Linked DNA regions of Homo sapiens: all the other regions are linked to region 1. The links come from fine-mapping of genetic effects on gene expression. A gene starts in region 1. Each other region holds a variant in brackets. All regions are shown on one strand. Distances are between the middles of the regions.

What was found. PIP is the estimated chance that this variant, and not a neighbour inherited with it, causes the effect.
Region 2: its variant is the best candidate, but not a certain one, in a credible set for the expression of TRMT11 in cerebral cortex (GTEx, PIP 0.77).
Region 3: its variant is the best candidate, but not a certain one, in a credible set for the expression of TRMT11 in cerebellar hemisphere (GTEx, PIP 0.67).

What each region holds. Positions count from the first base shown.
Region 1 is chr6:125,984,868-125,987,634 of GRCh38, reverse strand. TRMT11 (tRNA methyltransferase 11) reads right to left here and starts at 1,095. Exons shown (of 13, transcript NM_001031712.3): 1 at 1,013-1,095. The coding sequence starts at 1,084. RefSeq lists enhancers at 212-1,041, 575-1,064, 1,042-1,872.
Region 2 is chr6:126,052,708-126,055,474 of GRCh38, reverse strand. It overlaps a transcript of TRMT11 not described here. Among named protein-coding and RNA genes, the nearest start is that of TRMT11, 68 kb to the right of the region's middle. The variant A/G (reference allele first, on the strand shown) is at 1,040.
Region 3 is chr6:126,009,226-126,011,992 of GRCh38, reverse strand. TRMT11 (tRNA methyltransferase 11) reads right to left here. Exons shown (of 13, transcript NM_001031712.3): 9 at 576-740. Among named protein-coding and RNA genes, the nearest start is that of TRMT11, 24 kb to the right of the region's middle. The variant G/A (reference allele first, on the strand shown) is at 1,151.

The DNA.
Region 1 (2,767 bases):
CTTCTTAATCTATTAACAAGACTATTCCCACAGACTCCTAGTCTCTGGCTCAAGTCTTATTCTTTTCAAATCCATCCTCCATAGTGTTGTCAAACTGATTTAATTTTGTGGTCACTTTTTTACTTAAGGCTTTTCAATAAATCCCCCTTCCAAGCTCCAGGGTACTCAAGGTTTTCATTTTCTGGCCTCGATCTACTTCCCTTGCTCTCTTCTTACCACTCTGCCACATAACTAGTGATCCAGTAATAATGAACACCTTGTAATTCTAATTTACTGATTTATCTCCTTGGCCCTCTAACTCCTATTCATCCTTTATTTCAAGTGTCATCTCCTCTGGAAGCCCTCTTAAAGGCCAACATCCCCAACCCCTCAGGTAGATTAGATTTCCCTTCCACGTGCTCTCATATTTCCATGTGCATCTATCACTGCACTTACCGACGCTCTTTTGTCATTCTACGCCTATGTGTCTGCTCAGCCCTTACTCTAAACAGTAAGCTCCTAGAGGGCAGAGATTGCTTACATCATCGTTACATGCCCAGCGTACCGATCTTCGACTACATGCATTCTGAAAACGTTTCTTGAATAAATAAAACACTCTTCTCAACTTCTCCATCATCTAATCCCCACCACCATCCCCTCCACTGAGCTTGATCCGCAGATTCCAATACTTCAAACACCAGCCTGAGCATTTGTTAGCTGTCTCTATTCTCCGCTAGACGAAGAGCTCCGGGAGTGAGATGACCGGTCATATTCACCTGCCTAACTCCGGTACTTGATACACGGGCAAAAGAATGAAAAGTTTAAGCAGGCCGAGGGGTTTGGTCTCGGACTTCTCTCACACACACCCTCCGCCAAGCTCACCCCGCCCGAGGACTGGGGACGCGTGACCCGCGCAGACCAGCGAAGACCCCCGAATCCCAGCTTCCTCGGGCTATGCAGATCACCTCCACCCACTCCACTCCACTCCAGCGTCCTCTTCCGTCGGAAGTTCCGGAGGGCGCTACGGACTCACCGGCAGGCGGAACTCCAGATGCTCCTGCGCCATGAGGAGCAGATACCTGTTAAGGGTACACGACAGCGCCATTGCAGCTGCCCACCGTGCGCCTGCGCGGCCCGCGCTAGGTCCCTCTTTCTCCCTCCCAAAGCCCAGTCTCCACAGAGACAGAGCCTGAAGGGCCGGAAGCGGAAGCTCTGCGAGGCAGGCGCTATCCCGACGTTTCTCGCGCTCCGAGTCCGAAACTCCGGCCGCTGTGGGAGGGGCTTCCTCACCTGTGAATGCCTGGTGGTTAGGGGTCTCCCAGCGCTGGTAGCTGGTGAGCGGGGACGCGTGGCTTTCAGGAGCAGCCTGTGATAATAAGACAGTATATTTCCAAGTTATCGTTCCACTTGGAGTGTGCTTCCAGCTTTCTCTACAGCCCTTCAAAACCTGTTCTTCAAAATTGGACTGAAATTTCACCATTTCCTTGGAAATTTCACCATTTCCTTGTAGGTTTGTCTAACCAGCACAGCTTTGGGAACTGATTTAGTTGGGCCAGTCATTTAACAGTATATTTTTCGTATTTATGTAACAACTTTTCGAGAGCACATGCCTTATAACCCAATTATAATAAACTCTTGAGGTCTGATATAATCTTTTATGGTTCACTCTATTCTTAACAAAAACCAAAAGAATATCTTCCTCAAAGTAGGCAATAATTATTAGGTTGTGTTATTTGTTAGACTCAGGACTAAATCCACAGCCAGCCATAAATTAAAACTTGGAGAAAGCTCACACTGGCACAGATTTCATAGCAGATAGTTTATGAAATATATTTTAATTGCATATTCTATGTATATATGTGACTTTTTTTTTTTAAGACAATCTTGCTCTGTCACCCAGGTGAGTGCAGTGGCGCAATCATAGCTCACTGTAACCTTGAACTCCTGGTCTCAGGGGATACTCCTACCCTAGTCTCCCAAAGTGCTAGAATTACGGGCTCAAGCCCTCCCTCTGGGCTATTTCTGCTTTTGAGAGTACCGAGCCCTTTGCCCTATTAAAAATTATTTATTTTGCATTTCTCTGTGGTATTGTACAAGGTGCAAAAGAGTATGTATCTGGCATATCCCCAGCGGCATGTGCCAGAAACGTAGTTGATGCGCAGTGGTAGTGATTAAGAACATAGGCTGTGGTGTCAATATTAGATTCAAACCTCACTTCCACCATTTACCATGTATATGCTCTTAACCTCTCCGAGCTTGAGTTTTCTTTTAAAAATGGAAAAACACACTGCCTCCTGCAAAGGATTGTTACAAGGATTAAGTGGAATAATGTTCATAAAGTGTTGAATATAACATCTGGCATATTGAATGGGGCCAATAAGTGGCACTTGACATTTTTCTTAAGAAAATCACATGAGAATTTTTGTTAGCAAGAGATCTGTTTTTGTTAGGAATATGTCTCAAGTTCACTTGTGCTAAGTGACTCTGAGAAGCATAGCTGTCTCTTGACCCCAAAACTTCAGAAAAGGGGGTAAAAGTACTTTGAGACAAGAAAAGTTGTTTACTATTTGAGAAGAGAGGCCAAGGTTGGGACAGAAAACCAATGAGATGTTGGGGAAATGATGTGCAGTACTTGATATGCCCCATCCCCAGAACTTGTCAAATCTTCAGCAAAATTAATATGGAATTTTGATGGGGCAACTTTATAGAGAATATCAAAGAATTGCTGATTTTCATGCCTGGATTAATATGATGCTATATAGAGACAAATGAGACTACAAGGCCTGGA
Region 2 (2,767 bases), 68 kb before region 1:
ACAACTGTTCAACATAAGACATGTATCTTTTATTCATCTGATGTTCATAGTGGTTGCTGGCTGGCATATGCCAGGCATGCAGTAAATAGTGAAGGAGAAGCAGGCAGGGAGTGTTAGAGAAAACCAGGCGGGCCACAAGCAAGGGCTAGAGGATTCCATGCTGTCCTTCCTCTCATCCTCATTAGTAATGGGTTTTTAAAAGGTCGTAAAGGCCAGGCACAGTGGCTCATGCCTGTAATCATAGCACTTTGGGAGGCCGAGGCAAGGGGATCAGTTCAGCCCAAGAGTTCAAGACCAGCCTGGACAACATGGAGAAACCCTGTCTCTACAAAACATATAAAACTTAGATGAGTGAAGTGCCATGTGCCTGTAGTCCCAGCTTCTCAGGAGGTTGAGGCGGGAGGATTGCTTAAACCCAGGAAGTTGTGGCTGCAGTGAGCTAAGACTGCACCACTACACTACAACCTGGGCTATAGAGCCAGACCCTGTCTCAAAAAACAACAAAAATGTTCGTCAGCATATGGTGACTCAAAAAGCCTGGTTGCTCTTGGTAAGAATCTTCAAGGAAAGATGCGAAAGAGACGTGTTGGGAGTTCTGAGCTGTTTTCTTTCAGGGAGCACCCTGTGTCTCAGAAGACAGCAGAGTGGGCTCCAAGGTGAAGTTCTGAAATAGGCAACAGTGCTTGAATCACAAACTATTTTTTATTTATGACAGATTCCTTGAGGTTGATCAGTAAAATATCCTTTATGTATATCACCAGATTTTAAAATCATGACACTTCAACAGCTCATTTGTCTTGGAGCGGAGAAGCAGCTCCCTGAAACAGTGTTTGTATTTTGCCTTGGAGATAAGGACAAACATGAGCTGGCAACCCACAATCTTTATTTTCATCAGCTTGCTCTTCAGCAGGCCTACACCGTCAGCACTGTGTGAAGAGCGAAATCAATAAAAATCATCTCCCTCGGTGCAGGAGGCCAACATGTGACTGTTTCTTGGCTCTGGAGCAAGTATCTGTCAGTCAGGGTCAGGAAGGTTTCT[A/G]CTGTACTTATCTGGGCAATCTCTTACCACAGTGTAACTGGGCACCTAGGGGGGCTCTATAGATGGGGAAATGGAAGCTTTGTGGTGTCAATGCCTTAATTCAAGCAGCCTCAGCTATGCAATTCACCCAACTTAGAAGACAGCATTAACTGAGACCTAGAACCAAGGCAGAAACAGACCCTGGAGCAAAGGCAAAGCCACAGACTCCCTCTTTACAGGCACCCTTTGTCAAGGAACTCAAGCACTTCAGCCAAGGACACCATTTTGAAAGAAATTAAAACTTCCCAAAGAGCCTTGGCATTACCAAAGGGGAGAGGAGGTCACAGGGAGTGGGCTTCTCCCAGAATTAAGTGCAGATTCTGCAGCAGGGCGTATGAGTCCTTTAGGATCTGGCTCTCATGACCTGTCCAGCTTCATTTCTCCTCTTTGGCTAATGCATTTAGCTCCTGGCACACCAACTAGTTGAACTGTTACCCAAATATGCTTTTCCAGTGCTATTCTCTCTGCCTGGAATCCCCCTTCCCGCCCTCACCCCCTGACATGATCACGCAACTTCCACTTCTTTAGGGGTTAACTTAGATGTCATCTCTCAGGCTTCTTCCTTGATCCAGTCCTCTCTCACGTGTTTTTAAATGTAGGTTTTATTATTATTCAGGTATGGTGAGACCAACAGATCACAAGACAATTTTAATTGAAAAGACAGTTTGTTCCTCGAAGCTCTCGAGAGGACACACCACGCCATGCAGGGCCATGTGGGGAAGGACCAGGGTCGTTCAGGAGGCAGAGGGGAGGGGAAAATGTGGACAAGAGCCTTTATTGTGGTTTCCAGAGGAAGGAACAGGTAAGGCAGGATAAGCAGGCATAGGATTAGCTAGTTTGAATAATCTCAGCAGGCTCTGGGGTATAGGGGTTGTCCCTAAGTTACCTGGTACCTGGCCCAAAAGTGATTAGGTCTGAGAAATAGTGACCCAAAGCATAAAAGCTGTATAAAAGAGGAAATAGAGTGAGTGGACTCTGGACTGTTTAGTTTCTATAAAAGACACACTTGAAGGAAGGTGAAACCTTTATCTCTAGGAATTGGCTGGTTCTGGTCTCTCCAGGGTCAGCAAAGCCCCAGATGTCAAAACATCAGAAACACATGGTTAATACACTACCACTGTTAGAAGTGGCTAGGTGCTCCTCTTAGACTCACACTGGGCTTGCCCTGTGGAAAGACGGATCACACTATTTTAACTGACTACTTACCTCTTTGTTTCATACCACCGCCATCCTCCAGACCATGAGCTCATTGAGGATAGGACTATGTCTAATTCCTTGTTGAGAGGCAAAAAAAAAAGGACACAGAGATGAACTTGGTACACTTCAAGGTCTAGCCTTAGGTTCCAATGCATCAGGTGACATCCCCCGCCATAGGAGCAAGTCTTCTGGGCCATTTACCCCTAGCAGAAATGGGTCAGGTCTTCCCCAGAAAGCTGATTCATCACACAGCACCAGTCCTGCCCTTCTTGTTTCCTTAGGAACCCACTTAGGATCATGAAAGAGCTTCTCTTTGGGTTCAGAAAGACAGACTGGAGGCAAAAACATGGTTCTCCTGTTTTCAGGTTCTTGATCTGTTTCTCCAAAACTAAGAGAGAAAACAAGCTAACAAATGCAAGATCAAAAACTAGATCTTTGTTCATTTATTTTGGTCCAAAAGATAAGACTGTAGACTTAAATGTCATCAGACCT
Region 3 (2,767 bases), 24 kb before region 1:
ACTCACGACCTCATGAGGCATGGGAAAATAAATTTTCATGCACATTCCTGAAGCTCAGTAGGTTCACAGGCCCAGTGGTTCCACAGAACCCCAAATTTCTTGTAATGCTAGAAAGGAGATGCCAGTGAAAACAGGCACTACAAAAACACAAATGCTTACACATAGAGAAATGTGTGATATCTGAAACTCTGTTCAAAATTTGACACCATAATTGCAAATGACATGTGAGCTCCAGTTGGTATAATAACCAATTATAGTCAATACAAAAACAAATACTAAATATATGCCTCAAAAAAATAAGCTGAAGGGAAAAACGGGTGACAAGTTAATATAAAAGGATATAACAGGGGATGGCAAGCCAATATATTTGTTTAAAAAAACAAAACAGTAAGCCCTTAACAAGGTAGTTAAGTACCTTCATAACTTTCTCCTTACAAGATGAAGAAGCTGGGGGTAGATGGGAGAAATACTGACAAGTTGGCATTTTGTGCATGTGTTGGTAAATTTTGTACTTTAAATGTAAATGATTTTACAAAACGAATCCTACTCCTACTTTTGTATAAAAATAAACTTACGATCAGTAATGATTGCATCAAAATATGTGCCCTTCCTCCAGGAAGGTTTAGATGCATCTGAAACCAGGACATCAAGGTAATACTTCTCTAAACCATATTGACGAAGATTGGCCCTAATGTTTTCATCTGGTCCTCTCCACTTCTGGTTTTTCCTAGTAGCCTTTCCTGAAGGGAAAGAAAAAGGAAGAGAGAAAGTATTAAACAGAGTATTCTTATTTTCTGTCATTTAGGAAAAGTAATGTTTTAACTCACTGAAACCTACATTTATTCAAAATTTGCTTTCATTTAAAATCTTAATTTTATGTATACAAGTAAATAGTTATTTTAATTTCAACATAACAGTAAAATGTACTGATGTCTAACTTATCTTGTTCTGTCAACTTCCAAGTAAAACTGCCTTAAAACACTCATTCGATATTTTCAAGTACGAAGATTTTTGTAGTAAGATAGAGTTGAAGAGAATATGGTTCCTTTCTTCCAGCAGTAAACAGTCCTGTGTAGAGATAGTATGAATCAGATAAATGAAACAGAAATGAAGAGAGCGAACTTGGGAAATGCCGCAGTTGTGACCATGA[G/A]GAAGGGAGGCAAAATGGAGACATTGCTAATGAAAGTTAAAGTGGGAGTGGAAGGAAGGCTAAAGAAGCTCGTAAGTTCCTTGTTTAGGAGACATGATAGTTTAGGATGATGACACCAGTGATTAATATCAGAGAAACCAGGAAGAAAAACAAGCTTAAGAAAAAAGATTAGATTCATTTAAGATATATCAATCTTGATGTACCTTGAGGTACCTGCAGAACTTTCAGAAAAAGATACGCAGTGGGGACATTCAGCAGGTAGTTGAAGGCCAGAATATACAGACTTTGGAGTTATCAGCATATAATCTTATACTGACTCCATAAGGCTGAATAACATTCTTTTTGTTCACTTAGGAGGCAGTTACATGTTTGCTCTATAATTATTCTTATAAAATCAAAAGAAGAACGACATGACTCTGAAAAACATGCAGTGTGACGGAGAAGTGCTCAAAGATAGGTAGACGCCTGGAAAAAAACAATATATAAACATAAATCAAAGAAAATTGCAGGGCATCAAGTAGACTGAGAAGAAACAAAAAAGTAAAAGTACCACCTGCCAAGACCACTGTCAAGGAAACCAAGAGCAGCTGTATGAAGGTCAACACTGTCAAATGCTATAAATCTGTGGCCTTTGTTAGCGTTTTCAACAGAATGATAGGCACAGAAGCTGGAAAATAATGGCCAGAAGAGAGTGAAAGATGAAGAAGAGGAGACAAGAAGTTATACTAGTTTTTCAAGAAGCATTTTGGCAAATGGAAAAGGAAAACAAAGTGGTAGCTAGAGAACCTCTACAGATTTGCCAAAAAAAAAAGTTTTGTACTTTTAAAACAGGAGAAACTTGAGAATATTTTAGGATAAAGTAAGAGTTCAGAACCACAGGAAACAGAGGGTATACCTAACAGTATCTTGGATAAGCTCTAAGGGAACTACCTCAATCAGAATTCTACCCCAGTAGACTGAAGGTTACAACATAAGTTTCCAAACATAACTTTAATAAATAAAAATTCAAGTAAATTATATAAGACAATTTCCTTAAAAGAAATATACTGCTTCTACTAAAAGCAAATTGGAATAATTCTTAGTACTTTTTAAAACAGATTTCAGATAAAGAATATCTTTTTCTTGCTAGCCCATTTATATACACCTAATAAATTATAACTCATTTTCCTAATAAATGTTACTAAATTCTTTACAGTCAAGGTAGGGAAAAAGACAGGTCACCAGTACAAGATATCAAATTACTTCCACAAAAGAAAATAAAGTATAATAAATGCTCACCAATACAATAACTTATACTGGGTGAGGAAAAGGAAAAGAGTATTATAAGGGCTGATCCCAGTTATTATAATGAATACCAACATAAACACAAATAATCTCAAAATCATCAATAAAATGACATTTTCAATACCATTAAGCTATAAGGAAATACTTTTTCAGTTTGATTCAATTCCATCCAATCACACATCATTATTGAAGCTTCTAGAGTTTAAAATATTTTCCATAATTACCTGAAAAGTAAAGCAGATGACTGTTTCAAGTACTCTCAGTTCAAGGCAGAATCTTTAAAGTTACTTTAAAGAGGTTTTGGTCAGTTATAAAATTAGAAACATAAATAGT